4 separate regions of the Homo sapiens genome follow, and all the other regions are linked to region 4. Evidence: fine-mapped expression QTL. A gene starts in region 4. Each other region holds a variant in brackets. All regions are shown on one strand. Distances are from middle to middle. Region 1 overlaps CNTN4 (contactin 4). Region 2 overlaps CNTN4 (contactin 4). Region 3 overlaps CNTN4 (contactin 4). Region 4 holds the start of CNTN4 (contactin 4).

What was found. PIP is the estimated chance that this variant, and not a neighbour inherited with it, causes the effect.
Region 1: its variant is fine-mapped to the expression of CNTN4 in nasal epithelium (TOPMed, PIP above 0.99).
Region 2: its variant is fine-mapped to the expression of CNTN4 in testis (GTEx, PIP 0.95).
Region 3: its variant is fine-mapped to the expression of CNTN4 in testis (GTEx, PIP above 0.99).

The regions. Positions count from the first base shown.
Region 1 is chr3:2,379,559-2,387,668 of GRCh38, forward strand. All of the region lies in intron 3 of CNTN4 (contactin 4), which reads left to right. Among named protein-coding and RNA genes, the nearest start is that of CNTN4-AS2, 240 kb to the left of the region's middle. The variant G/A (reference allele first, on the strand shown) is at 4,862.
Region 2 is chr3:2,888,160-2,896,269 of GRCh38, forward strand. The region is part of intron 10 of CNTN4 (contactin 4); the gene reads left to right. Among named protein-coding and RNA genes, the nearest start is that of CNTN4-AS1, 170 kb to the right of the region's middle. The variant T/C (reference allele first, on the strand shown) is at 4,099.
Region 3 is chr3:3,052,159-3,060,268 of GRCh38, forward strand. It overlaps CNTN4 (contactin 4), which reads left to right. Exons shown (of 25, transcript NM_175607.3): 24 at 1,649-1,817; 25 at 3,962-5,801. The coding sequence ends at 4,062. All of the region lies in intron 1 of CNTN4-AS1 (CNTN4 antisense RNA 1), which reads right to left. Among named protein-coding and RNA genes, the nearest start is that of CNTN4-AS1, 4.9 kb to the right of the region's middle. The variant G/C (reference allele first, on the strand shown) is at 4,199.
Region 4 is chr3:2,094,059-2,102,168 of GRCh38, forward strand. CNTN4 (contactin 4) reads left to right here and starts at 4,808. Exons shown (of 25, transcript NM_175607.3): 1 at 4,808-4,920; 2 at 6,500-6,581. LOC124909338 (a long non-coding RNA gene) reads right to left here and starts at 4,197. Exons shown (of 2, transcript XR_007095785.1): 1 at 4,089-4,197; 2 at 3,523-3,900. RefSeq lists an enhancer at 764-1,371.

The sequences.
Region 1 (8,110 bases), 290 kb after region 4:
TATTTATGAGCATTAGATGAGTATTTATAAAATATGTCAGGGATAGGAGATATCATTTGTTGTTAAAATCTTATTTTTGAAATTAGACTGCAAGAATTTGAATCTGTTGTCATGACTTTTTCAGGCTATTTGATCTTGGGAACATTATATAACCTCTCAAAGTGACAGTTTCCTCATTTGCTTAAACTACTGTGGGTTATAAGAATATCATCATGGCCGGGCGCGGTGGCTCACGCCTGTAATCCTAGCACTTTTGGAGGCCGAGGTGGGCGGATTATCTGAGGTGGGGAGTTCGAGACCAACCTGACAAACATGGAGAAACCCCATCTCTAGGAAAAATACAAAAAAATTAGCTGGGCATGGTGGCACATGCATGTAATCCCAGCTACTCGGGAGGCTGAGACCGGAGAATCGCTTGAACCCAGGAGATGGAGGTTGCGGTGAGCTGAGATCGCACCATTGCATTCCAGCTTGGTCAACAAGAGTGAAACTCCATCTCAAAAAAAAAAAAAAAAAATCATAGGGTTTTGGTGATAATTTAATTAGATACTGTGTCTCTTGGTATAAGCTCTCAATAACTTTGATCATCTGAAATAAAAATGTCATTCTCTTTCCTCTATCCATTGTGTTTTCACAGAAGTTAGGGAAAATGGGATGAGAATTTTCCAAAGCAGCCCTTCCTTTTTATGTAAAATTTAGATATTGGCAGCGTATCTCAGCCTCAATGGTAACATTAGGGTTTGCATCTCTGTTGTTAGTCCAGGAATCTGTTTTTCTCTTTTGATTCTTTAAGTCATTTGGATAAAATATTAAAGAGCACTAAGATCTGATGTTGTAGATTGGAAAGAGGAAATAGTTGAAGAACATGAAATGTGTCTATTTTACCTTTATATAGCTATGCAGAACAGGTGAGATTTGGTATGAATTTGAATAGTAACGATGCTTACCACTCTTGAAGGATATTTTGCAAATTTTAATTGGTTTATCTGAACACCACTTTTAGGGGCTAAGTAAATATTCCCACTTTACACTGAGTAGATCTAACAAAATGATCAGTTTACCCAGGTCATTTACTACATTGACTATTGCCAAATTCAGTATATCCAGATTGGACTTGCTGATCATGCATGCTTAGTGGGTTTCTTTTTTTTTTTTTCCATTCTTATCCTATTTTACATAAGAACGAATAACTTATTCTCTCTAGAGTTTGTAGCTTCATTTGCAAAAGGGGATGCCTAAGAGAGGAAAGAGCAAACTAGGTGTCTTTCTAGCTTCAAAGATTGTTATTTTGTGATTTCTGTATTAGTTGGTTTATAATTGACCAGATCAATTTGAATCATATGTGTTTTTCTATTTTCTGAATTCAACACTGTTATTTTCTATTGTCTTGAGTACTGATGTTTCCAAATTTTTAAACCTTTCCCTTCTTTTGTTTTGTTTTGTTTTTTTCTTCCTTTTTTTTTTGGAGACAGAGTCTTGGTCAGTCGCCCAGGCTGGAGTGCAGTGGCACAATCTCGGCTCACTGCAACCTCTGCCTTCTGGGTTCCCGCCATTCTCCTGCCTCAGCCTCCTGAGTAGCTGGGACTACAGGCGCCCGCCACCACACCCGGCTAATTTTTTTGTATTTTTAGTAGAGATGGGGTTTCACCATGTTAGCCAGGATGGTCTCGATCTCCTGACCTCGTGATCCACCCGCCTCGGCCTCCCAAAGTGCTGGGATTACAGGCGTGAGCCACTGCGCCTGGCCTTGTTTTGTTTTTTCTAGAGAGAAATGGGCCCCAATATTTGCCTTATAATACTTTGTACCTTGTCCTACATTTCCCCCTTAGAACAATGTACAGAACAGTCAACATGACAATCAGATCAAGTTTCACCTTCTGCACTTAGGTCTCTTACTTAGCTATCACTAGTCTGGAGGTGTTGGGAACATAACTTAAACTCTTTGAACTATAGTGTTCTGTAATGTGGCATTAATAAATCTGAAGTCAAAAGATATAAAATATGTAAAAGCGCTTAGGAGAATATCTGGCACATAATGCATGGTAGTTTTTCCCTTCTAAGTCTGTAGGTTAAGATGAATATTTGAAGACTTTCAAACTGATTTTCTTCCAATTAAAATATTTGTAAATGATGTATAAAAAGTCTCCATTCTTTAACAAAGGCTGTTAAAGGCTCTGGTACTGTTTTGATTATATAAATTAAAAAATTATGTATTTCTTATAAAATATTGCATATTTTAAAAATGTTTTTAGCTCATTGAAAATATTCAGAAAACATATATTTTAATATCTTAGCCAAGAATTTGAAATTTTTCTATGAAGGTGCAAGGTTCTAAGACCAAATTGTCTCTGTAGAGCTGTGTAAAATTAAAAAAATAAAATTTCGAACTGGCAAGAAAATGTATTGTTCTTCCCAAATCTTGAGACAAAGGCACAAACCCTGTTTCATTCACACACAAAAAATAATTTTGATTTGCTTAGGGACATAAGATTTATGGCTCTGTGATGTCTGCTAGAGATATGTTTAAAGTGGACCACTCTATACAGCTTTATATAAAAAACATGGTATACACCTTACTGAACATTCTTTTCTTACATTTTCTTCCTATCGTGATTTTTTTTTTTTTTTTGAGATGGAGTCTTGCTCTGTCACCCAGGCTGGAGTGCAGTGGCGCGATCTCAGCTCACTGCAACCTCTGCCCCCCGGGTTCAAGCGATTCTCCTGCCTCAGCCTCCCGAGTAGCTGGGATTACAGGCGCGCTGTAATTTTTGTACTTTTAGTAGAGACTGGGTTTCACCATCTTGGCCAGGCTGGTCTTGAACTCCTGACCTCATGATCCACCCGCCTCGGCCTCCCAAAGTGCTGGGATTGCAGGCATGAGCCACTGCGTCCGGCCCTATTGTGATTTGTTAGTCTGAGTTTAGATTACTTACACCAGGAGGCATTTTTTAGCCTAAATCTGTAATCAGTTAAACAGGAACACTTTCTAAAAAATTCTAGTTCCTAAAAGGCTTGACTTCTACTTTTATTCTGCTCATTTATGTGACTGGCTATTTGAGTTTGAATTACTGGTACATTAGGAACGAAAATAAGGAATGCTTCCTTTTGCTTCCAGATTAGACAATATACCCTGTTAGGTATGCCAGTGCTGTGAGTTAAACTGAGCTGTAAAGTACAGGAAGGGTAGCATTGTCTGACAGAACTGGAAAATGATGGATTAAAAGTAAGATAAAGGCCAGGCCTGGTGGCTCATGCCTGTAACCCCAGCACTTCGGGAGGCCGAGGCGGGCGGATCACCTGAGGTCAGGAGTTCGAGACCAGCCTGGCCAACATGGTGAAACCCCCATCTCTACTAAAAATACAAAAATTAGCTGGGCATGGTGGCAGGCGCCTGTAATTCCAGCTACTGGGGAGGCTGAGGCAGGAGAATTGCTTGAACTCGGGAGGCGGAGGTTGCAGTGAGCCGAGATTGTGCCACTGCACTCCAGCCTGGGTGACAACAGCGAAAATCCATCTCAAAAAAAAAAAAAAGTAAGATAAATAGCTTCATTGACAATTGAGGACCTTAATATGTCTGACATTAATTTTAAAAGTCCAAGGAGGCAATATATTATGTAGTATTTCCCAGACTTATATGAGCATATAACTTAACTCACAGAATAATGATAATCTTATCCAATTACCTATCCAGCATGTGAATCCTTTTTATAATACGCTTGCCTTATATTTATCCAACCTCTGTTTAAATATCTACAGTAATGAGTAACCATTTATAGTGATGATGATGATGATGAAAGTGAGAATGATAATGGCTAAGTAGTGCTTTCTTCCTTTATACTTTCTATGCACAGTTTTAACTGCCTTAATCTTCCCACAACCCTTTGAAGTACGTACTATTTATTTTTTCCATTTCACGGTTGAGAAAATTGAGGCCTGGAGGGATTAGGTAAATTGTCCCAGGTAACACAGCACAAATGGGTCTGGGTCCTAGGGAATCTTGTCAAGAATCCATAAATGTAACGACAGCACTATTTTCTCTCTCTCTCCTTCTGCTCCCTCTCCCTCTCTCCCCCTCTCCCTCTCCGCCACTCTCTCTTCCCCCATTTCCCTTTGCCTCCCTTCCTCTCCCTATCCTTCCCTTTCTTTCCCTCCCTCTCCTTCTTCTGTCTCTCCCTCTTCTCTCTTCTCCCTCTCCTCTCTTCTCCCTCTCCTCTCCCTTCCCTCTCCCTTTCTTTCCTCTCTTCTCCCTCTGTCTCCCTCTCCTCTCTCCCTATCTCACTCCATATATATATAAATTCTGTATACAGTTACTCCTTGACTTGTGTTCTAATAAACCCATTGTAAAGCCACAAAATTATAAGTCAAACCATTAAGTTGGAGACCTTCTGTGTATGTATATATCACAACCATTTGATACCTATGACTGACTGTAATAACTATAATTAAAAATGTATTCACATCTCTAATTCACCCTTGAAAAAATTATATTCTCTGAAGTTGGCTTTTCTGCTGGGAGAATAAGATTAGGGCCTACTTTATACGGTTGTTGGGTGAATCAAATAAGCTAATGAATTGAGCTTACAGCATGTAGCCGTGTGCATCATAAGGACTCAGTAACCTTTAATTGCTATCATTATTATTAACATCATTAATATGTTGTTGTACAGGAACAAGCCTAAACGTAGGCCCTGGTGTACTGATGGACCTGCTTAAGTTCACTACTTCTGAGCACCTGGAGGGCAAATGCTATGAATCCTGGCTTAAGTTGCTTTAGTCTAGCCGTGGCATGCTTCCACCAAAGTTCTCATCTTACCATCTTACCTCTTCCAAAGTCGCCTAATTACTCGCAGCACATAAATCC[G/A]CCTGTTAGATTAAATTGTGGGGAAAAAGCAAGGGAAACTGCTTAGATTTAATGTTAGAGAATGCCAAGAAGAGACATATTTATTATGCTTATTTTAATGGTTTTCTAACACAATAGATTGGGAAATCATGAGTTTGTCAAAAACAAATCTTAAGTCATGGTGAATTGCAAATGCCCAGCTAAATCAGGACTTAAAATTACTCCCTTTGTGGAAATCTCTTTTTCTTCTATGACACCTGAATAGGACTCTCACATCTCCCATGCTCTTAGCCCAGCTATTCAGGCAGCTCTCACATGTAAATTTGTCCCTGGCTCCTACACCAGTAACAACTCAATGTGTGCGTGTGTGTGTGTGTGTGTGTGTGTGTGTTCATGTTACCTCTACATTATATCCTTGGTTTCTAAGTAGAAGGACTAATTTTTACCTATCTTTTTTTAACCTATTTTTGCAGATTTTTCTTTTTTGTTAGTGCACTGCCTTAAGCAATATTCTTTTTTAAAACATTGGTTTCATATAGCCCCTTCTACAGTGGTTGACGTTCAAACTCATTTGGCTTGAAAGTCATTGTTGGTTTTACTGCCTCCATTCAGATCCTCCTTTTCTCTCTTGCTTCGCCTCTTACTCTTCCTTCCTAACTGGTCTATTCTGGTATTACCCAGAACAAATAAATTACATTGCTGATATCAGAGTGACCTGTTAAAAGTATAAACATATCATTTTCTACTTTAAACCATAATCCATAACTCATATCAACAAGGTTAATCCCAAACTCTTTTTAAAAATAATCTGTCTACTACTCAACTTTCTACTCAGTTTTTTATTTTTTATTTTTATTTCTACACTTTTTATTTCTACAGTAATATCAAATCACTTAAAACTCTCCCAACAAACAATACCTGTTTATAGTTTTGTTTATATTACTCTTGTTGCACTGAATAACCTATTAGCATACTTAAGGCAGAGTCTTTGTCCTTTTCTCCACTATTACCTGAGCAATATTCCTGGTGTCTTGTTCATAGCAGATGCTTGTATTAGTTTCTTAGGACTGCCACAGCAAAGTACCATACACAGGGTGACTTAAAATGACAGAAGTTTATTCTCTCACACTTCTAGAGGCCAGAAGTCCAAAATCAGGTGTTGGTAGGGCTGTGCTCCGTCTGTAACCTCTAGGGGAGGGTCGCATCTCTCAGCTTCTGTTAGCCCCAGTTGTTCTGCAGCTTGTGGGAGCATAACTCCAAGCTCATCTCTCATCCTCCATCTTCACATGCTGCATTCCCTGTATGCCTGTGTGTTCAAATTTTTTCCTCTTCTCATAAGGACATAAGTCTTATTGGATATGACCTATCCTAATGAACTCATCTTAACTTGGTTACATTTGCAAAGACCCTGCTTCCAAATAAGGTCACATTCACACGTACCAGGGGTCAAGACTTCAACACATCTTTTTAGCGACACAATTCAACCCATAACAATGTTCCATCAATATTTGATAAATGAATGAATACATGCATTCTCACTCAGCAGTCGCTCCCGAGAATCCTTCTTTTTATGTTCAGAAGAGAGGTTATCACCCCACCTTCATTTTATAGGAATTACGTCTTACTATACCTTGCACACACTACTTATTAATTTTCATGTCACAGTATATTTGTTCATATATCTATGACATTGGTTAGATTAGGAATTCCTCAAGTAAGGGCCTATATATTATTTATCTTCATATCTCATTGCCTTACATGGTTCCCAGAAGGGAAAAATGAGTGCTTATTGAACTCAAACATTCTCTGAATTCAAACTCTGAATTCAAACATTTGCTTGAATTCTGACTGGATTATTTTCCTTCCCCACCTCAAAATTGCATTGCTGTCTGCTTGACCTTTGTGTGACAGTAGAATGGCCAGGTGGTAAAGTTGCAGTATTGAGACATACAACCCATAGTTTTTCTGTCTGGGCCTGTTTTACTGTAATCACTTCAGACAACAAAGAATGCTTTCCCCATCTGGGGCCAGTTCCCCTAACTAGCAAAATCCTAGAATGCCAATAGCTGGGTTTCTTGGAATTAGTTTAAATCATTGTTTGCAATATGTGTTTACATTGCATTGAAAATATTTGTTGGAAAAGATGTTTTCATTTTTAGCAGTCATTTTTGGAGACGTTTATGTAAGAGAAGCAAATATCACATGTTTGAAGCTAGAAAATTTCTAAGGAGTACATGAAAATTGCAAAGCAATTTCTGTTTGTAGCTTTTAGATTTAAAAAGTGATGGCTAAGGGCACATTTTCCTCTTTAGAAACGAAAGGGAAACATTTCAACGAATTATTAAGTATTACATAAGTCTTTTAAAATTATTTGAGATGAGTTATAACTGAAACATATACATAGGGTAGTTAGTGATAAATTGAGAAATGCAAAAATTTAATTGAGCATTGGAGATAATTATTGCAGATATTTGAGATAAGATGTAGCTGCAACTAAGCGCATTCAATTTAGAGATTATAGAAATCATGCATGTGGCAAACCCGTGAACCTCTGTTTCTCTCCATCTGTTGGCTTTGCATCTTTACTTCAGGAAGACTACCTAAAGGGAAGAAATAGAAGTTAGAGTTTTGAACTTGCTAACCATAAGTCGTGTGACTTCCAATATCAGTTATAGTCTACTATAGTAATAAATAAATATTCATTTTGTGTGTCATCTGGAATTACTCAAATTTATAAAACTTATCTGATAGTAAATATACAATAATTTAAATGAATGAAATATTGAAAAATATCTAAAGTTACTTAGATGTGACACAGTCTATTTTGCTGTATATCTCTTAAAAATGCTTTTGGTAATGCAAGGGTTCTTTACAAAGTATTGTCTTTGTGAAGCAGTTGGCAAATCACTTATTAAATATTTAACCTGATGAGTTAGTTTTATTATTCTTAAGGCAAATCTTTATTAAGAGTAAAAAGAACATTTAAAAAATAAGTGTACAGCACTTGCTACTACTGTGAATTTATTTTTTATCAAAAGAAGTATGATTTTGTATTATTTTGTTTTGACTATGATGTTACATAATAATGGCATCCTTCTTCATTTATGCAGTTGGCTTTTTTATTGTTTAAGAAATTTGTTTATATTACTATTTGGTTACTTAATACATAGAAGAATATTTAATAATAGAGACATTTGAAAAATATAAAAATTATAAGGAATATAATGATCATAAACCTAAAGATAGCTGGATGAAATTCACTTTGATTTT
Region 2 (8,110 bases), 790 kb after region 4:
TTTAAGATATGACCGAAGTTCTAAGCCCTCCAGTAGACAGAAGGGGACCCCTCTTGGCTAAGGGGGGGCCCAGAGTAACATTGAAAAATGAGTTCTTGGCCATGATGGGAGGGTAATGTCAGACACATCTAGTTATACCTGCTCCCTTGCTAACCGCAATGAGCCTTTCTTCCCTAAGGGCTAAACACAATCTAGCCCTTTGAAAAGACTCCATCACTGACATCAACCATGCACCTGATGCTGCCCCTTATTTTTTGCCTGATAAGAGACCACCAACACAGAATGGTTCTGTCATTCTAGGGAGGATGTGCCGTGAGGGGTTTCATGTCCTCTGGTCTACCTTTTGACATCACAGGGCCAAAACCTCCACCCTCAGATGCTAATACTGCCATTTTTCATACCCGGAACCCATGAAGGGTTGCACATGCAGATGGTTCTCCTTTCATAAATATCCATGACTCCTCCTGTAGCTTATTAAATATGTATATTCATATTTATATACATATGAATATGTATATAAATTCATGGCTTCTGTGTATGAAATATACATATATTCATATTTATATACATATTTATGTACATATGAAAATATGTATATTTCATACACAGAACCCATGAAACTCAGTTGCACATGCACATGTTTCTTCTTTCATAAATATCCATGATTCCTCCTGTAGCTTATTAAATATGTATATTCGGCCATTCCACTCAGCACAAATTCCTGTTTGTTCCCTTTGCTCCTCCTTGGAAGTGCCTGTTTACAGCTTCTGGCCAAGGGAGGCTACGCTTCCTAGCCTGTCAGAATGGCCACCAGGCAGACTAATAAAGCTCTCCCTTCCAAAAAGAAAGAAAGAAATGGAAGGAAGGGAGGGAGGGAGGGAAAGGGAAAAAGGAAGGAAGGAAGGAATAAAAGAAAAAGCTATGGCCAAAGAATTCTGATCGATAATCACGTAACATTTTTTAAATCTTGATTGGAAACTGGGCAGAGATTTCCACTATGAGCCAGCCTTCAATGACCTCCCCTAAGTGACTCTCAGCATTTCATTTTGGACTCACGTTCCCCTGATGCAGCTTCTGAGGGGAGAGAACACACAGAGTTGTAGAAAGTATTAATACTTCACTTGATGAGCTGGGCAGTAGCTGTTTGAATACATCTGCACTTCTCTTTTATCATTCGTCTGTCTTCAAGAATATTAAAGGACTGACTCTCCTCATGCCAGATGACAGACTTGATATTTAATCTTTGCTTTCCTCTTAAACTGTCATAGTTGGTATCTTAGTTGATGGGTTGTAAAGCAAAAGACACCACAGTTAACTGACTGCAAAATCATGAGACTGTAAATTACAGATTTATTCAGTGAGATGCTATGGCTGTGTATTTTTAACTGTGTAGGGCTCGTTTTTCTCACCAATGTAATAATTATTTTTTCTATATCAGATAGGAACAATCTGTAAATATTCAGATAATTGGCCAACATTTTCTCTTTTTTCTTGGTTGAATAGTCTCTTCAGTTCAGTGGTGGCTGTTCCTAAATGTTATTTGAGTAGCTTAACTAATTGAATAAAGTCATTTTAACTTTCATGATTTTCTGTTAACTGAAATTCCTGCTCTCAGTATGTTAAACTGGTATGAAATTTTCTGCAACCAGGGGTCGGCATACTGCTTTCCTGTGGGTTAGAGGTTTCCTGCACTGGAAATACAGTACTCCAGGATTACTGTTATGGAAAATCAACTTTGTCACTGGCTCCCAGCCCTGTGCAGGGAAATGTTTTTTTCAGGGATCCTGCCCTGGAGATGAAAATCAGGTTCTAACAATGTTTCCTTTTTAAATGGAGTTATCTGCAGCCATGCATGGGAAAAAGAGCAGAATAAAATAAAATTTGCCTGCTTTCTGAAGATAACTCAGCCTTAGCTCACTTGTCAGCCACGCTTGGTGTTAAAAACTTGTCAGATCAGTTGACTTCCACAGCACTTGGCTATTGCATTTATGTTTATTCTTTTGTTTTTCCTCATCTAGCACATCAGTGACAAAAATTATCTAATTGTTTTCATTGTCACAGCCACAGGAGAGCTTAATTATACATAAGCACTTGGCTGTCATCTTTTTTCCTCTCACTTTTTTCTGGTCTGGGTCTTCCCAGTGCTGTGTTCCTAATATCCAGCTGCATAGGTCTCCAATTTAAATGAATTATGATAATTAAAATCACCATGTAGATGATAAAAGGTGAGAAAGTACCCCAGTCACTTATCCATGAACATTCTGTCTTTGTTGACAAGAATTTCTTACAACCTAGGAATTATAAACCATGGGTTTGAGCTTAGAAACCTGCTTCTTTGGGTTCCAGGTTGTTTATTGCATTCATCAGCTCTCCACTTCAGCAACCAGAAGTGTGCTAACTCCTATTCAGGGTTGGCAAAATGGCAATTTTTTTCCTTCTTGCATTAAAACCATTTTGCATTAAAACCATTTTGCCTTCTTTCAAAAGCCTACTAGGCATGATGATTGTTCCCAGTGTCTGAATAATGGAAGCCCTATTGCCCTTTGGTTTGTCCCTACTGTAGCCATGTCTTTAAGTTACCCTGTGCTACTCATGTTTGGTATGTATGAAGAACTGAAGCAAGTTCAGAGATAGAACATTTTTACCCTACCCCATCTTCCCAATTTGTTTTTGCTATAACCTGTACGGTCTAGTTGAATCTACTTTTCTCAGTCTGTTTTTGGCATTAAAAACTTCCTAAAAATAGATTTATTTTCAGTGGTAAAATGCTATGGATCTCTGTTACTAAAGATAAACATTTTCCAAAATGACTTTAATACATTATTTACTTGTTTAACAAATTTTTTTTTATTGCCTACCATGTGGGAGACATTATCAGGCACTATGGCTGCAAGACAAAATCCCTGCCCTCAAGGACCTAATATTTTACTGGAAGTTAACCAAAATGCACTATTAAGCAAATAAATTAACTAGGAAATTTTATTTTTTGGTAAGAGTGATAAAGAAAATAATGAGGTTGATTGGCCAGGTGCAGTGGCTTATGCCTGTAATCCCAGCACTTTGGGAGGCCGAAGTGGGTGAGTCACTTGAGGCCAGGAATTCGAAACCAGCTCCGTCTCTACTAAAATATAAAAATTAGCTGGGTGTGGTGGTGGTGCATGCCGGTAGTCCCAACTACACGGGAGGCTGAGGCAGGAGAATCACTTGAACCCAGGAGGCGGAGGTTCCAGTGAGCCGAGGTTGTGCCACTGCACTCCAGCCTGGGCAACAGAGCAAGACTCCATCTCAAATAAATAAATAAATAAATAATTTGATATGATAGAAAGTAGCTGAGAGCAAGAGAAAGATTTCATAAGATGAAGTAGTCAGGAAAGACTTGTCTGGGAATTGCCCTCTGACCCAAAACCTAAAGGATGAAAATGAGCTAGGCTTTCAAGGGGAAGTGCATTGCTGGCAGAAGGTGAGGAAGTGCAAAGACTCTGAGGCAGAAAACTACTTGACTTTCTTGATATGCAGCAGGGAAGTCAGTGTTAACTAAATCATAGTGAGCAAGGGGCAAAGGTTTGAAACTTGGGAAGGTGACAGACTGCAGTACTTTGTAAGCCAGGCACAGAGTTTGGGTTTTATTCTCTGAGTAAAATGGGAAGCCATTACAGCATTTCAAGGCAGGAGGGTGACTCGATTTGATTAATGTTTTGAAAAGACCGCTCAGGTTGTTTTGTGGTGAATGGATGATTGGAAACCAAGAGCAAAAGCCGGACCATTGCCAATATCCAGGTGAGAGACATTGTTGGTTAGGACGTAAGAGAGGAAGAGAAATGGAGAGACTTGAGATATATTTTGGAGTTAGAGCCAATAGGATATGCTCATTTCATTCCTACATCTGTCTAGTTTATAGATATGGAAATTGAGTCCCAAAGAGATTAAAGTAATTGATTTAAGTTTATACAGTAAAAAACAGAGCTAGATTTCGAATGCTTTGCTAGAGGTTCTGAAACTTCAGTGTGCATCACAATCACTTGGAAGTCTTATTACAACACAGAATTCTGGGTCTCGTTCTATGTTCCCAGTGGGAACATACCAGATGGAGGCTTTGAT[T/C]TGGTAAGTCCAGGGTAGAACCAAGCATTTGCATTTCTAGTAAGTTCCCAAGTAATGCTGATGCTGCTTGTCTGGGAACCACATAGTGAGAATGCTCTATGTTTAGGTTGTCCACCCATGGTATTGTGAAGCTGAAGATTAAATGACATGCAAGAGAAGGTGTTCCTGCTACTCTGGAAAGCTAACAGCTTACTGTCACATCAGGCATTTTAGCCAGTCTACACAAAGTAGAATGAGAGCGCTAAGGCAATTATCTTTGAAGAAAGGAAAGGGAAATATAAAATGTATTTAATTCACTTGGTAATTATTCATCTTTGCACTTCATTCTGTCTCTGTAGTCACTTCCTTTTTGCCCAAAAAGACTGATAGAATTATAGTCATCATTTAGTAGAATGAAGTGTGAACTACAAGAGCCTGATATTTAATATCTTTGTACAGTTTCTTCTCTTTGTAACAGGTGTTATGAGAGTTAAACCATCTTCATAATTAGGAAATGGGGAATCTAATATTTGAGCAGTAAACAAGGCTGTATTTCACAGAATCCAGTAATACTTAAGCTGGAAGCAACTGCTGGGGCCAACCCTTTGATTTTTATAATTAAGGAAAATAAGATCCAGAGATACAAAATAACTTATTCAAGGTAATGCAGTGAATGGGAATCACAGCTAGAACTGCTTTTTTCTGCTATTCTACCTGTGTTACTTTTCCTGCCAATACAACATTTTAATACAATAGGTAAGGTGAAAAAAATCCATCAATCATCCGGATACTCTTTCTTGCGTTTTCCATTACCAGTGTCACAAATGAAAACATCTGGATGAACAACTGACTTTTTCACTTTCTATTTTCTAAGTTGGTCACCTGGTTATTGAGTCCAAAAAAACCCTTTTTTTCTTCTTCAAATTACATGTAAGACTAAATGTCTAGAGCCTTTGTGCTACAGTCCTTTGCCTCTAAAGGCAAAACTGTAGGCTTGATGACACTGCAAATGGTGTTTGAGTATCTCTAAGGTCATCAATAAATGAATACTTAAGCATCTTACAGCAGAGCATACTAATTCCCCATGGATGTGCTATGTATATGTGATCACAAGATAATATTCAGCCCTGCAAAGAAGCTTAAAGGACAGAGTAACCAAAGACTGAACACAGTACATAAGGTAATTTCACAGTAGGGCAATAGTTTGCTTAATTGTCCTAGACAGAACTGATATTGATACCCTCAATTCCCCTGTCACTTAAGATAAAGTCAACAATTTTTGTTTCTTTCTTTCATCTGATAGTTCCAATAAAGTATGTTGCTACAGTTTTTAAGGGGTACGCATTAAGCAAACGTTGCGAATAATAGAGAGAATTAATACAGGAGTGGAGGCATAAAGTCCTCACCTAATAAGAAACGTTAAGCCATGAAAAAAAGAGTCATATCAAGGACAATATATTGAAATGCAATTCAAGTCATCTCACTCTATAGTCCCAGAGAAGGCAAAATGTCACAGTTACATTTTTTTATTCACCAATGAATATTGTTTAAATTTACTTATAGGAGGTTTTGCTTAAGTTGATTCATTTATCTAGAAGTTCCTCTGCTTGTCTAAGCAGGAGGGCTCAAACTGTTGGTTTAAGGACTCCTTTTTACCCTGAAAAATTATTGGATACCTCAAAGAGCCTTTGTTTATGTGAGTTATATCTACCCATATATGCCATATAATTAATTTAAATGGAGAATTTAACTTAGAACTTAATTTACTTTAAAATAACAAAAATACAACCAGTATATGTTAGAAATAATTAACATAAGAAAACTGACTATATTTTTCCAAATAAAAATATTTAATGAAAAGAGTAGCTTGGTTTATATTTTTGCAAATCTCTGTAATGTCTGTCTTACTAGAATAAAAGTGCATTCTCCTATATACTTCTGTATTCAGTCTGTCATGATATTTTGTTTTGATTGAAGTATATGAAGAAAATATGGTCTGACACATATATAATTGGAAAGAGAGGACATAATGGACTCTCTTAAGGAAACCTGGGGACCTACAATGGTTCTTAGATTGCACTTTAAGAAGGATACATTCAAAAGAATGCTACCATTGTCATTTGTGTTAGGGTTGGACATTTTTTGAGAGGCTCTGGACAGAGAATGGATGTTGGAGCCAAGCAGGCCTGTGTACCATTGCTAACTGAGCTACTTTCTGAATCTGGATGTTAATGTCTCTGGGCCTTACCTATAAAATGAGTACAAGTCTACTTAACCTGAATATTATTATGAGGTTTAGAAATGATGTGCATAAAGTGAAGCTGATTAGATATTCCATATATTAGTAGTTTCCATTATTGGTTGCATTTGGGACTGAACTCAAGGTGTATAAGGGAAAGAGAAGGGGATGGATTCAGCTGAGTAAGAGCAGATTGAGGGAAACACTAGGTAGAGGCTTTGAAGATTAAAAAAATAAAAGAAAGAAATATAGAGAAATGAATCTGTGTAAGGTTAGAGTCATAGCTTGATTGATCTGGGTATAACTGAGTAAATCGGGCCCAACAGCCTTTTTGAAAATCCACATATTGCTGATTTACAATGTTTTTATTCTATAACTCATTTATAAAGTTCTGAACTGACTTATTGGAGTGGAGGACAAAGACCCTTATTCACCAAGAGCTGTGAATTCAATGGGCATAGTTGGACAGAAAGTAAGAGATGTAGGTAAAATCAGATGGCAGAAGACTTCATTTTCATTTATGTATTTGTTAATTTATTTTCGAGACAGGGTCTTGCTCTGTCCCCCATGCTGGAGTACAGTGGTACGATCTCAGCTCACCGTGATTCTCGCGCCTCAGCCTCCTGAGTAGCTGGGACTACAGACAGGCACCACCATGCCCGGCTAATTTTTGTATTTTTAGGAAAGATGAGGTTTCACCATGTTGGCCAGGCTGGTTTCAAACTCCTGACCTCAGATGATCCACCTGCCTCGGCCTCCCAAAGTGCTGGGATTACAGGCATGAGCCACCACACCTGGTCAGATGGCAGAAGACTTTCAATATTAACCTAAAGATATGAAATAATGATAATGTTCTCCTAATTTTCATAACATTTACAGGAGGCAGAGCACATTCAGAAATCTTACTTGTTATCTCGCATACAGATTACTTCCTACAGTTATATTTGCTTTATGTATTCATGAATACCTATTAATAGAAATATGCCAGCTTTGAGTTGCCTTCTAGTGTATCTTCATATAGTTGGTTTTTATATCTGAACTTGAGTTTATCCTTGCTATCCGTGCTATCTGTAAAAGGATTGGCCTATGGGAGATGCCATCTCCCATACCATTGCCAGAAGCAAGTCAGTTGTAACTTATGTGGAGATGAAGAAGCCATAAATAAGAGTGTGTGAATGAAGTACAAATTAACAGAAAAACTAGGAGAACTATGAATCCTGTTGGTTTAAGAGACAATCTAAAGGCTAAAGGTTTCACTTATTAAAATCAAAAGGAGGGGCTGGGCGCAGTGGCTCACGCCTGTCATCCCAGCACTTTGGGAGGCCGAGGCGGGCGGATCACAAGGTCAGGAGATCGAGACCATCCTGGCTAACAGGGTGAAACCCCGTCTCTACTAAAAATACAAAAATTAGCCGAGCGTGGTGGCGGGCGCCTGTGGTCCCAGCTACTCGGGAGGCTGAGGCAGGAGAATGGCGTGAACCCAGAAGGCAGAGTTTGCAGCGAGCCAAGATGGCGCCACCGCACTCTGGTCTGGGCGACAGAGCCAGACTCTGTCTCAAAAAAAATAAATAAATAAAAATCAAATCAAATCAAATGAAAAGGAGTGTTAGACATCATTAGGTCCAAACGAATCTGAATTCAAGGAGAAAACAGGCTTCCAATCCCCAGACTGCATTTCCAAAGCCGTTCTTATAATACAAGATATCAGCCAGTATCAGCAAAGTATGTGTATGTTTCTCAAGGTACTTTTTTTAGCATGAAATTTCACAAGAAATTCTCAATATTTAATACAAA
Region 3 (8,110 bases), 960 kb after region 4:
ACTACAGCATGGATCCCACCTCTGTGCAGTCTTAGGCAGGCTAGAGTGGAACTGGAGCGGGGTTACTGACCTCCTCACAGTCAACACTTTGAGCTAGAGAGTTCTTTGTTGCGGGGCTGCTCTGTGCATTGTAGACTGTTCAGCAGCATCCCTGGTCTCTCTATCCACTACAACAGGAGGACATGTTTTGACAAACATGTCTGCAGACATTGCCAGATACCTCCCTGTGAGGCAAAATTGCTCCCCTGCCCCTCCCACCCTGTTGAAAACCACTGAGCTACAGCATAAGTATTTTACAAGCACCCCAATGGTTCTAACATGCAGCCAGGACCAAAAACCACTGACCTCATCCAACCCTATCTTTTTGTCAGGGGAAACTACAGAGGATGAGCTTTAGTGGTTCTATAGGTAAAGGCACACTTTCCCAGACCTGTATATTTTGTTCCTGATTGGAGTAAATCCAATCACAGCAGGCAATCCCAGGTAAGTGAATGTGTTTTTAGGAGGCTAGTTGGCCACCTCATCAAATGAATCCACCTCCAAACTCAGAACCCATGGGGGGCCCAAGATGAAAACAGGACTGTTGCAAGCTGCAGATATGTCCAGGGTGACAATGGTTGCCTCTTGGCTACCTAGCCCCATAAAGTGGGGTTCCAGAGGAAAGGAATGGGAGGTTACTACTCTTGCCTTTCCGATATCTTCTCCCTGTGCTGAAATGTCCTGTCTCTAAGAGTCGTGATCATAACTTATTGTGCCTGGCTTGTGCTCTAACCTTTGCCATGTATGTTCTCTGATTATCTTTAAGCCTTCAGAGATACTATTTCTTACATGCTTCCTCTAAGCTAGGCCATCACCAGATTCAAACCTTGTGCAATCTTTTGTATTTTTATATTTTTGAGACAGTCTTGCTCTGTCACCCAGGCTGGAGTGCAGTGGCTTGATCTCGGCTCACTGCAACGTCTGCCTCCCGGGTGCAAGCAATTCTCCTGCCTCAGCCTCTGGAGTAGCTGGGATTACAGGTGTGTGCCATCATGTCTGGCTAATTTTTGTATTTTTTGTAGAGACAGGGTTTCGCCATGTTGGTCAGGCTGGTCTCAAACTCCTGGCCTCAAGTGAGTCACCCACCTTGGCCTCCCAAAGTGCTGACACTATAGGCATGGGCCACTGCACCCAGCCTCCTTGTGCAATCTTGAAAACACACTCCAGAAGACTGGGTATTATTGTCCCCCTTTTACAGATGACTGAAGTGAGGCTCTGAAAGGTGAAGTGGCCTGTGATCCCACAGTGGCCAAGTTTATTCTGATGCCAAAGCACCGATGTGTAACTGAGCACTGTACATCCTTAAGGAGCTACTCATATTTTCCACTTTCCCAAGAGTGTCAACTGAGCCTCCGAGAGGCTAGGCAGTAGGTAGAATCACGTTGCTGATGCCCCTGATATAATATCCTTTCAGCTCTTTCCTTGGAATAAAATGGTAGCTGCAGTCATGGCCCTCACTGCAAATGAGCCTTCCAAATGCAAGTGGGCAGCCAGACAACCTCTACATCCCTGCATTTTGCTCGTGCCCAGAGGTGAAAACAAATGAATGCTCCATATTTGGGACCTTTGTGAAGACGGCAGGTGACACCTGTTCTTTCTGTATTGGCAGGTCTTGTACAGATGGAACAGACAAAGCAGCACATCTGTCATTGAAACAAATAAAACATCGGTGGAGCTTTCTTTGCCTTTCGATGAAGATTATATAATAGAAATTAAGCCATTCAGCGACGGAGGAGATGGCAGCAGCAGTGAACAAATTCGAATTCCAAAGATATCAAGTGAGAATGCCTTTTTTTCTCCCTTTTCTCCTGCCTGTCTTATCTTATCAGCCTTCCAGATGAGTCAGGGCTTGAAAGACATTCAGCCTGCAAAAGCAGACTTAAAATAGAAATGGAGAACACTACCCCCCTTCTCCAGATGTTTGCTGGCCATAGGCAGTTTCATGCAAAAATCAGTTTGCCCGTGTTGACTGATCTACTCAGTTGCTAATCAAAAATCAGATTAAAGCAGACCCGAATTAGTCACTAAGGTTTTTCCGTGTCAACCTGTGTAGTTTGCATTGCATCTATTGTAGCCCCAGAATTACAGTTTAGAAAGTGAAAAGCATTGACTCAGTCAGAAGGAACAAGGACAAGCATTGTTAAGTATGCCGTAGCAGTTTTTCTCCAGTGAAACAGTGTATGCAGTTCAGTATCTTGGAAATATTTGGAATTTACTACTTATTTTCAATGGGTATATGCAACATGTGCATCAATGTGTATGTCTCTCTATAGTCAAGATTATCTTCACTTTCAAATGTTGTTGAATAGCATGGGAGAATAGCATATTCTTTTTGAGCAAATACATTCAATTCTGTTTTTACAAATACCATGTTTGTAAGTATCTTAAGAGCATGATTTTTTTGTTGTTGTGTGTGATCTCATTTATTTAAAGAAAAAAAACAAAATAGCCAAATCCGTGGAGACAGAAGTGAGGCTAGTGATTGGCAGTGGCTGGTCAGTGGGGAATGGGGGTTTAGGCACTGGGTCTTCATTTGGGGTGACACAAAAGTTATGGAGCTTGAGAGTGGTGCTGGTTGCACAACACTGGAGTATACTTAGTACCACTGATTTGTACATTTTAAATGAGTTAAAATGCTAATTTTGTTATGTGTATTTTACAGCAATAAAAAAAAGACTGTGGTTAGATATCTAAGTGTAGACTTTCACAGGCTTTCAGATTTCAGTCTGGAGATTAGGGGAGCAGTGAAGGCTGGAGGTATAAATTTTCAAGACATTGGTAAAAAGATGATATTTTAAATTATGGACAAAATCCTCACCACCATCCTGACTTTTAGCCATGTGACATCCCTCTGCTAAGGGGTGATATGCCAGTGTTTCTGGATGGAGTTTATATTTACTGCATCTTTTTTGCATACAAACACAAAAGGCATTTTTGTCTTAAAAGGGGGACAATTGGATTATACTTTATCAAACAAAGCCTCTAACTTCTATCGAAAGGGAGCTAGATTTTTGGTGAGATGTGGAAGTAAAATCTCCAGGCCACAAAAATACAAGATTGGGGCTTATCTCGCTTCATTAAAAATCTGACTTTATACTTCATACTTTCTTATCATTGCAGGGATTGACATTTTTAGATAGACTGATGATTCCTGGTTTTATTCATTACAAAAACATATATTAAGCAATTATATTGGTGTAATTATTAGATAACAAGGAAGTGACTGTGAACCAAACATGATCTGTTTCAAGAGATTTTTCATCATGTTGGTCAAAGAGACCTTACAAGATTGAAGAACCCCCGAATGACAGTTGATAGCTTCTTACTATGAAAAGTGTAAGACCCATAAGAAAATTTAAAAAAGGATTGAGGCTATTTTGTTTGCAGAAAAGGGGTAGATTTAGACAGACATGGGTTTGAACCCCAGTTTAGCCATTTACTAGCTGGGTGATCTTAGATAAGTTACTTTATTTCTCTGGGCGCAAATTACCGCCATCTGTTAAGCGAGGTAATAATAATACCTGGCCTTCATCCAGTTTTTGCAAGATTTAAGTGTCATATTCATCTGTGCCCAGCAGAAAGATAGAGTTCAAAAGGGAGCAGCAATTTTCATTTTGTTGAATCATCGACATAGCATGCTGTTTATCAGTATTGTTACTAGTAATATTGAAGTTTCTTCTCACATTAGATAGGAACCTCCTTACTTTACAAATGCTTTGACAGAGGTACAGGGCTGTCCTATACCCTACTCCCAGGTTTGTAGCTTGGTAGTCATAGAACTGATATTTAAAAGCCATTAAGACCTTGATCATCATTTCCAGTAGAATCCATGCAGTTCTGCTGTTTCAAAAAGCCCCGTGGCCCCTCTTCCCTTTGAAGCCGGGATGGGGCTGTTTTGAGTGAATTTGTTCTCTCTTTTCAGATGCCTACGCGAGAGGATCTGGGGCTTCCACTTCGAATGCATGTACGCTGTCAGCCATCAGTACAATAATGATTTCCCTCACAGCTAGGTCCAGTTTATGACAAAAGTTATCTGAAGGACTTGCTGTTTATAATATAAGCAACATTTAGCTAGTTGTTTTGAAGACACCCAGTACTAAGTAATATTGTTGTTCAAGTACATCTTATTACTGGAATAAAAATGTTTTTTGCTTCTTTA[G/C]GAATGGCATTATACAGTACTTCCTCAAAGCAAATCTAGCTTTGTCTGAAGTTTCTTTGGAAACTCTGCAATGCACTGAAGACATCTGTAATATGATGTTACCAAAGCAGTTTACATATGTCCTTATATGCATATTTTTTATTATATATTTAGTGTTTTATAGAATTTTTTAAAGTTAACATATAATGTAGATATTAATTTTTTCCTCGGCTGTAAAATGCTATGGGCAACACAATCATGCAATTATAATTTGAAAATATTTCCTTTAAAGACAGAGTTTGAAACTCATCTTGGTAAATAAATTGCAAATTACTCGTACAGTTTTACAAGGATCTCATGGCAGAACAGCGGAAGACTTGGTCCGTAACTCAAGGCTGTTGTATGCAAACTACTCTTCTAGTGGTTAATGCACTTGACATGTACAGTATGTTTCCCATGCCGTTGTGATTTTGACATGTACAGTATGTTTTCATGCCGTTGTGAATTTTGTTGTTCAACCCAACTTGAGATGGTTTCAGGAATGGCTGCAATCTCAAAAGCTCAATGTACTGCCCAAGAGGCACCTTGTGCAATATTCCCATCCCTGAATTTAGCATTGTACAGGAAGATTTTCTTTTCACTCAACTGAGTTAGCATTGTCTTTGTGGTAGCATTATCTTAGACATTAAATTTGAAGTAACATATATCCTGTAGTAACATAGACCCAAAGTTACTATAGTCAACCAAGTCTTTCAAAGGATAAAAGATCATTTTATTATCTTTAACTGTATCTATTTTGAATGTAAATTTAAAAAAAGTAATTCTCTGTCAATGGATTCGTAATTTCTTTACAAAATTTCTTATATATAATATGTGTATCTCTGTAATAATAGAGCCCTTCTTTTGAATCAAAATTACATATGGACTTTGGAAGATTGCTCCTATTTCAACAAATAGTTGCTGCAAGAATTTTTAATATGACTCTATAAAAGCTCTTTAGTACAATTGTATGGTTTCTTGATGATTCTGTTTTGCAATAGGTAGCCTAGTTGCTTTATATGCTTTACCTTCTAGGTCTTAAAATCACACATTGGAAAATGACAATATCAACAAAACTGTATTCTTATGAAAAGAACTATTTGTTACAATGAGAAAGGTTTTGTGAGTAAACCCTACTGGACAGTGACATAAAAGGCAATGGAATTTTCTATAAACATTTTCTCATGTAAACATGCTGCCACCTTTTCTTCTTTCTCAGAGAACTCAAATTTGCTATAGTTTGTCATTTTTGCTTACAAATAATATAACTTTTCAACCTTCTAGTTATATTTATCCAATAAAGTCATAATCGGGATTCCATTTGTGTAAAAACTAGGGTGGTAACCGGAAAAAAATATTGTCAGTATTTCAAGCTGTGTTCCTTTCTTAGTTTGATATGGTTACTTCTATGTTGAAATAAAATTTAAAATCACATGCAAAAAAAAAATCAGCAAAATAATAAAATGAACGAAAAAAAATGACACCCAGGGAGTTCCCAACCCCAGTGTAAATGATATTTACCAGTGATCTAGCATATGTAATCTTTTTTAAAGGTATTGTTAATAAATATTCTGTCATTTGTAAAGATACTTGTCTTTCGGGAGCATTTTTCCTGCCTGCCTGTCAGGGAATTTGTTAGCTTACCTTTGTGCTAGTTATAATTTGGGATCATAGAGGGACTCAAAAGTCTCTACCCAAATCTAGATGACCCAGAGCTTTTCCTTTGGAATTGACAACCCTGAAGCACCATTTCAAATCCTCTTTGGAAGTAGAGAGGGTCCTAATCCACAAGTAAATGTCCTGAAGATGAGACTTGAATATTTTCTCTTGATTAGCTAAGTCTTTTGTATATTTACTGTAAGTATATCTGTTGTTTCCCTCACCCCCCATTGCTAAAAGGGTAAGTTCTAAGCTTGAGCATTTAAGGCTCTTTTTTTTTTGAGACGGAGTCTCACTCTTGTCACCCAGGCTGGAGTGCAATGTTGCGATCTCGGCTCACTGCAACCTCCGCCTCCCAGGTTCAAGCAATTCTCCTGCCTCAGCCTCCCGAGGCGCCCACCACTACACCGGACTAATTTTTGGATTTTTAGTAGAGACGAGATTTCACCATGTTAGTCAGGCTGGTCTCAAACACCTGACCTCAGGTGATCTGCCCGCCTCGGCCTCCCACAGTGCTGGGATTACAGGCTTGAGCCACCGCACCCGGCCCTTAAGGCCCTTTTTAATCCAAAACGATTTAACTGTGTATCCAGCCACAGTAAGCCCTCCCTGACCCCTGAACACTGCTTGCTTTTGGTCTCACCTCTGTGCCTTTGGTCTTATGGCTGCCCCTTCCTGAAATGCCTTCTCCACCCTTCTCTCCCATTCAGATCCCTGCTGTCCTAGGGTAGCTCCAGCCCCAGTTTGTCTGCAAAGACTTCCCATGCTTCAGTCCTTTATGACATTCTCGCTTGGAAGTAGTTGCATCCCCTATCAATGCTGCTCATTTAGTAATTAATCAGATACTACTTTTGGAAATCTCTTGTACTGTTATCTTGCATTTTAATTTAACTCCTGTATTGTTACTTACTTTTTCTTGTATGTATGGCTTGTCTTCCCAACTAGATTGTAAGCTCCTTGAGGGCAGGGACTTTGGTCTTATCTTCCATGTACTCTCCATAGTGCCTAGCACAGTGCCTTGCAATAAATACTCACTGATTAATTGAATGAAGGGGTCTTTGAAGTAGCATTTTGCATCAGTTGCCTGCCTGTGTGCCACAGCAAACCAACCAGGGAAGACTGTGTCATTACTTTCGTTATGTGCTGAAAAGCGTTAAAAGGCCTGGCTTCTAACTTTGTACCTGGAAGAAGTCTTTGACCAATTGGCTTCATCATCGGGTAAATGAGGTCCTGGATTAGTTGAGTCTAACTGAATTGAAGATGTTTTAGAAAGTGCCCCATGAGCACCTCCACCCAAACTTGTCTCATTTGTTGGCTTTCATGGTTGCCTCAGGTAGGGTCCACTGGCTGTAAGCAAAGAAACGACCCTGGGTAACTTGAGCAAACAAAAAGTAAGGAATTAGAATGACACAGGTTACATCATATGAGCCAAGGAAACACTGAAGGACCAACTCTTGAGGAGAATAAGAACCAGGCCACTCTGTGGGTCCAGACAATGGGAACTTTGGAAAGTCTTTTTGGGGTGCTATTGTGGGGATGAATCAGCTTTGTTTCCAATTTTGACGCCATTATGCTCAATATTCAGATTCCTGGGAAAGTGATCAGTTCCATTTGAGTTCCACAGCCAGAGTACCTTGTACTCACAGGGGAGGGATAGTTAAAGGAAAACTAAGATGCTGTTTTCCAAAGGTAAGAGAAGAAATGCTGGGTTGGTATAAGTAACAGATTTTCTAGGCTTAGCCAGCCAAGGGGACTTTCTTAGGCCCTTAGCCCAAGTAATACACTCGAGTGGAATGACTATATTGCTGCTTGAGATTTTTTTCTGAAGGAGGACCACTAGGAAAATTTGCTTTGCTTGTTTAACCTTTCAAAGTGCTTACTCTTGCCCTCCTTTTTGTGTGTGTAGTCCACTTGTGATTTAACTGTATGAAAGGAAATTCTATTGTGCCAGATATTTGGATTCTCTCAGTGTACCTACTTTCTATGGAGCCCACACATGCTACATACAAAGCAGCACCTTTCCATGGGCACAGAAGACATGGATGATAAGCTTCATTTCTCAGGTAAGCTCTGAATTCTTCCAGCCTGTGAGGTAGAAGGTGCATAGACTTTGATATTAAGAAAGAATGATTGTGTTATTCCCACCATCAAAATTGTGGTTGTTTATATCCAGGAGGCAATGTTAAATCCTGATTAACCTTTACCCAGTCTCTTCCACCACCTTGCCTCACTACA
Region 4 (8,110 bases):
ACTATTGAATGATAGAGAAAAGTTCAGGACACATTGAATATGAAGAAACTGATATTAAAAACATGAACAAAATGAAAATATTTAAGAAAATATGTAATTACAGTTATGTGAATACAATGTAAATTGTTTAGGATAAGATGAAAAGATAAATGATTTGATGAATTCTGTATAAATTGAATGTCTCTAAATTGAATCGCATACCATATGGGCGGATGTGGCCGTTTAAAGGAGACATTTGGTACAGTTGACCCTCATTATTCACAGATAACATATTTGTGAATTTGCCCACTTACTGAAATTTACTTATAACTCCAAAGTCAATACTTAAGGCACTTGAGTAGACACTTGTAGACGCACAGAGGTATTTGTAGATGCACAGAGAATAAAAATTGTAGTTGCCCAATGCACACATTCCCAGCTTAGATCAAACAAAGTGATGCTCTGTGTTCTTGTTTCAGCTCTCATATTCTAAAAAAGTCTCCTTTTTGCAGTATATTTAGTGCATGTTTCTCAAATTTTGGGTTTTTCTGTTGGTGATTTTGCTGCTTAAAATGGCCTCGAGCACAGTGCTGGAGTGCTGTCTAGCATTCCTAAGCAAAAGAAAGCTGTGATGTGCCTCACAGAGAAAATACATGTGTTAGATAAGTTTTGTTCAGGCAAGAATTACAGTGCTGCAGGCCATGAGTTCTATGTTAATGAATCAACAGTATATATTAAAGAAGGTATCTTTATCAGTTGATGAAAATCTTGTTACCAGAGGCTGTCAGGAACATAACCCTTTATTGTCTCCAGTGTTTGCAGTGACTTTATAGAACATAATTACTGAGGACATCAGAAATCAACTATAAATACTTTTGCAACTAATAGACCTTTGGAACAATTATTTTTGGATTTTGTATAAAGAATCCAAAAAAATCTGGAAAACGTGTGGCTAAGAAAACAGTTGATTGGTCCCTAATTCCACCTTATTATGTTTAAATTCAGTGGGTGTCTCACAGCCACGTTTATAAAGGAATCTTGGCTGGGGTGTCAGGTTTCTAGTTTACTTTGACTCTATCTGTCAGTCTGTGTCCAACCTTCATGGCAATTAACTGTGCTTTTGTGTGCTAATTATCATTATCCCAGTATGGGCCCATTATTAGTCCAATGTCCTTAGTTTAAAGCTTAAGTGTCAATCAGTCACCTAAAACAATTGCATAGAAGGAAGCTTTGCAAGGCTGGTTTGAAAGTCCTTAGCTGAGTTCTACTTTATTATACTCCAGTTCGAAACTGAACACAAAGCTCTTCTTGATACAATTGTTTATTTAAATACTGATTTATCTACTTAATTAAAGCAAACTTGAGTTTATATTTTAAAATCAGGGATGGGATAATTGCTACTTTATGCTTGAAGATCTATTCAGGTAGCTATACATTAAACAAGTAAAACCGTAATTATAAAACCTGCACATTTTTATCTGATTGAGTCGCTCCTGCCATTGAACGACCTTATTCAAGTCATTTAGAACAAAGAAAGGTGGCATATATGAGTTTTTTAAAATCCCACTGGATGCCAGGAGTAAGGAGAAAATAGCATCAAATCAGATGTGGTCAGAAAAGAGGTATTTCTTTTCCTGTGATGCTTTTCCTCTTTCCTCCTCTTACAGTAAATCCCCACTTATCAAATCTTCAGATGTGTAGAGAAGGAATAAGGCAGGGGTAATGGGGGAGTGGGACAGAGAGATGCCCTTTCTGGAGTTTGCACAACGGTTGCATGCTGAGTAAAACCTGATGATGTATTCCATTCATGTCTCCAAAAAGTCAAAAGCGGTTTCAGCGTTGATTTCCCTTAAGAGTTATCAGTCCTCATTCAATTGGTTTAATGAGTGTAAGAGGTGACCTTGTGTCTATGTAGATACTCCCATATTAAAAGACCTGGATGTAAAACTTCACATATGTGTAAATAGTTATTTTGGAGGGTGTTGTGAGGGTTATTGCAGCTCTCTGCTCAGCTGCTACTCAGGCTAAACGGGCAGGAGAAATTTTCCACTGTGTTAGAATGATGATTATTTGCAAATTACATGAGCACCAGTAATTCATTCATGCAATGATACAGAGCTGGGTCTCAGTGCAGTGGTATTGAACTTGCTGCTGGGGGCGTTAATTGATTCGTTTGGAACATTCCCCTCCAGAGAATCCCAATCACAGGTCCCCTGATCAAGAAACGGACACGCAGTCGGGGTCCTGGATATGTAGAGACACACGTGTGAGGCTGTTGTCATCAAAATAAACCATTTCTGTCCCCTGACAGGGGTTGAGTCTATTAGGAACACTCCCCAATCCTGGGAGCTTCCGCAAGAGGCTTTCTATCTTGGCAGAGGTGGCAGCTGAGCATCGCTTCTTTGCTGCAGGATGGAAAAAAGGGACTGGATTATTGGCTGCATTTTAAACTAGCTGCTGTTCTAGAGAAAATGTTGGGGAGGGACTGAACAAGCTTAGCACTGGATCAGTGTGGGGGTGTGTTGGTGAAAAGAAAAAATGCCTCCTCCTAACTTAACGTTTAACTGATATCCCCTCAACACGACCCAAATCTGTCTCTCCAGATACACAATGTCTGTTTTCCTAACTACATGGTGAACTGTGGAGCAAGTCTTGGTCATGTTTAGTTTGTTTCCCAGAATCTACTAGAAGACAATGCCTAGCATATAGCAGGCACAGAATAAGGGCCAAAGGGGAGAATGGAAACAAAATATGTACATTTGAAATTTAGAAACACAGTTAAGGGACTTTGCCTGAAATTGTCATAAAACTTTGAAAATTGCTTCAATGTATAGTCCCAGTGGGAGAATGTGACAGCATATTTTATTCTTTGTTCTTTTCTGAAATTCTGTGTCCAGTCTAAAACACGACATTTCCCTTTAATGTGTTAGGAGTATGCATGACTACACAGGAATATTTTCTGGAGAACTTCTGGTGAAGCATATTTTGATAAACAGTCTTACTAAAAGTTATATATATGTACTTTTAATTGACTAGTTGCAGAGAAATAATCAATGTAAAAAAAAATCATACATAGTACAGGTAGTAAAAGTCACAGTTCCGGCAGAAGCACAAAAGCCTTCAAAGTGAGTGGGAACCTGGGAACCATTGATCCTCAGTGGCTGTTTACCATGGAAAACACCTGCATCACCAACATTCCAGTTTTGCAAAAGTACCTCTATTACAGACACATACCAGGCAAGGAGGGAGGAAAAAGCCTGAAAATTTCTCTCCAAGTTTAAGTAATCAGGAAACTTTGGTGGGGAGGTTGGGGTGGGGTGGGGGCGGGGGGGTAACTTCTTTATTTAGCATTAATCTCAGCAATCATGAAAGTCATGGAATTTCAAGTGATGAAAAATTTGACCACAACAATACCTATCACTAGCCTGGTTTTGCCCACTTCTCGAACAGGAATTATAAAGATAATAATTAATTCTAAAAAGCAGAAGACAAAACAAACAAACCAAACCAACACTGAATGAACTAATAAGGCTGCTGCATATATATGTTGGAGTTGGATGTTTATTTGCTTACTGCAGTAGTTTAAAAATAGTTTTCCAGTTAACATCTTTTCCACATAGTGGAGATGTCAGGGTAGGTTTACATGATTGCGTAAATGGTCAGAAGTTGTTTATGTAGCTCTGAACTGCTGAGAGATGAGCAGGAAGACCTGGGTTCAGCAAAACCCTTGGGGCTTTTTCCCAGAGAGAGAAACAGAGGCTCCTCTCTGGGTTGCTGGAATGCTTTCCAGACGAATTCGACTGGGTTGGCTTTTCTCTGCCTGTCAAAGTCACTTTGCACAGTGCTGGTGAGGGGCTGGGGCATTGCTGCCAATCTCTACGGTTACCCCGAGGTGTGGAGTTGCGGCGAAGGGAGCCACTTCTGCAAGGAAACAGTAGATTCATAATGTAGAATGACCGTGGCAACGTCGTTCAAAGCACATTCTTTCGAATAACAAGGCTTTCGACATGCCCCACCCCCGCGCACAACACACCACAAATTGATCCTTGTACCTAATTTACAGCAACTGTTCCCTCTGACCTCCCCCCGCCCCCGCCCCACATTCCAACCTGAAAGCACTTTGCGTGGATGAGACTTCAGGTGTGTAACGCAGCCTGTCCAGCCAGTGTCCTCCGCCTAAGGACAGGCAGGTAAAAACCTACCAAAGCCCCCTCTTCTGGCCTAAGTTCAATGCCACCCGCCCACCCACATTCCCCGGTTCAGCAATTTTCAGCCCAGACGCAGAAGCATCTGTTTCCCTGGCCAGGGCGCCTTAACGATCCCCCGAATTCCGCGTCTCCCGGAGGCCAGAGGTTTGGGTACCCAGGAAGGTCGCGCCTCCTCGTGCCCCGATACTCGGGTTGTAAAGGGAGGAGACATCGCCTCGGCGCATCCCTGGCCGCTGAACAACGCAACCCCTACGTCCCCGCACGGGAATCCGGCTGATAATCTCCTCTTGCCTGAGAATCGGGCCAGGCGCCCTTTACTAATTTCGCGCGCTGGGGACCTGGGGCTGCCGCCTCTCGGCCGCGCGGGGCAGGTGCTGCGTCCCCAGCGCTCGCCTCCTCCGGCCGCGCACTGAGCATGCGCGGGCTCCGGGCCTCCGGCGCGTCTCCCCGTCCCCGCTCGTCTCCCGCCCGTTCCCACCCGCCCGCGCCTCTCCCCTTCCCCGAGCGTCTCCCCCGCCCCGCGGCTAAGGAGCCGGCAGCCCGAACTCCGGCGCGCCAGGTTTTTCCAGCCGCCGCGAGCGCCGGGAGGGAGGGCAGCGCCGCGCCAGACGGAGCCCGGGGTTCGACGCCAGGATTGGCTGCAAGTAGGGAGCTTTCGCCGCCGCCCCGGGCCCCTCGGACTGTGCCGGCGCCGCACCCGAGGCTCTCGCCAGCCCGGCGCCCCGGTGCTGAGGTAAGTGAGGCGGCAGCTGTGCGGGTCCGGCTCCTGCGTGGGCGCGCGATGCCCCGGGGACGCGGTCGCGGGTGTGGGGGGGAAAGGGCAGGGTCCGCGCGGGTTGCCCGAAGGACAGGGGCGCTTCCCGGGGCTCTGACTCCCGCGGGGCCGGGCAGCGTCTGCGGGGCCGTCCAGCTCAGAGCCCGGAAGCCCTGCAGGGTCGGGGAGCGGGAGCTGAACGCCTGAGCGCGGAGGACTCAGGGCCCCGACGACGCCACCGTCACCCCACAGCGACCCTTCTTCTCCTTCTCAGCCGGAAAATAAGTTTGTTGCGCTGCGAGGCAGCCACAAAACAAGGAACCGAGAGCCCGGAATGCTGCGGGAAGCCTTCAAGTCAGCTCCTCCGACTGGTTCGGGCTACTGCCCCCTCTCCGTGCGCCCTGGCCTCTGGCGCCGGGTTCCCGGCGGGGCTTTTCTTCTGACAGCCCAGTCACAGCCCGCAGCAGAGGGACGCGAACCTGGGGAGTGGAGGGACCTGGGACTAAAGGAACAGGAGCCCGTAGCCGTGGTGGAAGGAGCCGCGTGGAGACGGAGGCTGATGTCTGTGGCGCCCGCTGGGTGCCGGGCTGGCTGCTGAGCGCTGAGGCTGCGGCGGCGAGCGACAGGCCAGGTGCCTGCTCTTAGGGAAGGTACCTGGCTTCCCCAGTCTCTGCCGCGGGAGCCTGTTGGGTGGCATTCGTTTCCAGCAACTTCTGGGGGGTTTCCAGTTTCTTTCGAGAGGCAAGACAACCGCCCCGTCCCCTCCCCGGGCCCAGACGGCGGCGAACTGTGCGCCGGGCGCCCCACAGACCCCAATCCACTCACTCTCCTTCTGGAACGCGGGGCTCAAAATCTTCGTGCATTTTCTCTCTTGTGCTTCGTGTATATGTTTTACTATTTATGAAGGGTGTGGAGGTGAGGGTAGGAGGACGTGGGCTCCTGAATCCCTCTGAACCAGCCAGAGAGTCGGCTGCATGGAAACATTTCGCAGCGAAGCTCCTGCGAGGAGGCGGCTTCGCGCGTCGGGAAGATCAGGCGGTTGCTTGCTGGCCAGGGTCTGCAGATTCGGTGCGAAGAAGCTGGCGGAGGTTGTGTAGGGCGAGTCAGTGTGACTGAGCACCCTGGGTGTGTGGTCTGCGTGGAGGAGAGTGGGCCGGATCTTGAGGTGTGTTGGAGGTTTATTTGTAAGAGGAGTTCCTGAAAGGAATGTCGTGGAACTTTTTCTAGTTTTCCTGCTGGAATCAACATAGGGGCGGGCACATGTTTGTCAGAATAACAGTGGCATTTAACTGCATGGGAAGCTCTTTCAATTTTCTGTAGTGGGAGCTGGATAGTTCAAGGAGTAACTCCACATAACTGAGTCGTTTGGATACCCACACAAGATAATTTGGAACGCGCTTGTATTTTTTTGTTTTTTGAGATTTCTGGTTTATGTCCTTTAGAGAGTGGGGTAGGAGCGTAAAGACTGTATAGGTTGCCTATGAGCAGGTCCATACAATAGCGTTCCCAAGTCTGCCTAATAGCAAGTTTGTTCTCTCTTTCTCTCTCTCTACCCAAGTGGGTGAAAAAGAACAGTGTGTCATGAAGACAGGCACCTGGAGGTGATTTGGGTGGCATTCATGAGAAAATTCACGTTACCCGTAAGTTTATTCTTGCTATTTTTATCTTGATTTCTTTAAAGATTTTGTGGGAATATCTGCAGTGGGTCGCAGGAGTAGGTAAGATTGCTAAGGATCAAAAACAAGTTTCATGAGAATATTATTTTTGCTACCTTATAAAATAGCTATTGATTTGTTTGTTGAAGCTGGTTTCAACTGCTCTGTCTTGTTGAGGAGAGATGATGCTGATAAACGTCATTATTTTTCCATCTGAACCCTGGGAGGTAGCTGGCAAGGATGGAAAAACTGACCTTTTCAATTAAAGACTAAGAGTCTAAGAGAAGTGACTTGGATAAGGGTGCATGTCAGAGCCACATGTAAGTTTCAACAGAGGTAGATTTTCCTATTTGCAGTTTTTTAAACAACACTTTTCAGTTTCTTTGAGTTGTAAAACTTTTCAAGTCAATTGGGAGTCAATGCAGTACCTTTTTCCATGGTCATTTCATATTGGCAGGTAATTAAGAGTGATTAGAGAACAAACCTTTCAAATGATGTTGGATTTTTTATCATTCACTTATTTTACCTACTTCTCTCTCCTTTTTGTTCAAAAGTAGGTCTTCTGATTTCTTTTCCGATCTAAGCACTAAATCTTTTGGCTGCAGTTTTTCTTCTGAAATGTATACAGGGCATCCGTTCCTTCAATTTAGGTCTTAAAAAAATAAAGCTGCTCAGCAGAAAATTCCCATGCATGGTACTGACTTTTCTACAAGTTTGTCTGATCATGATTTTAACTTGTTGTTTCTTCTTTGTTATATTTGAGGACAGACATAATATGCATTAGCTTCAATCTCTCTTATCTTAAAAATTAATATTTTGTAAAAACTTGCTTTTATATTATTTTAGTTGAATAAGTCTATTTCATATGATAGGCAGGGGGAAGTCTCTACACACTGATTTTTTTTGTTCCTTTTTGTTCATTTTTCCCTGTAATGCTATGTTTTAAGCCTAGTGAAGGAGGCAAGGAGGCAGGATTTACTGCCTAGATTTATTGATCTTCATTATTATTATTATTTACTATCAGAAGAAATCTGACAACATATCAATAAAATTTATTTATAAACTGAAGACATGCTGTTATATGATACACTACTTATAAAACACACAAAGAAACAAAAAAGATGAATAAAGCAAAAATTATGAAATAGAAGGTCTCATGTTGCTGTTATGTATCCCGGTGGATCATTTTGTACAGCCCCTGGGGTGTGTAGCACACTTTAAAGATCACTGCTGGTTTGATATTTTTAAAATCTTTCTCTCCTTATCTCTGCTCTGCTGTTCATCATCTCTGATACTCTAGCCAGTTGTAAAACTGCTACACTTCTATATCTTCTGTAACAAATAGATTAAGCACACTTGTTTTCCTCTCATGGACTCATATGTGGATAGAATGAGGTGTAAAGGATGAATGTGTTTTGGAGATGTCATCTTAGATCTCCCAAAGTAGACATACAGGTGAATTTTAAAAAATGGAGTTTTAGTTTAAAGACTAAGTACCAATGGTCAGGAAGTGA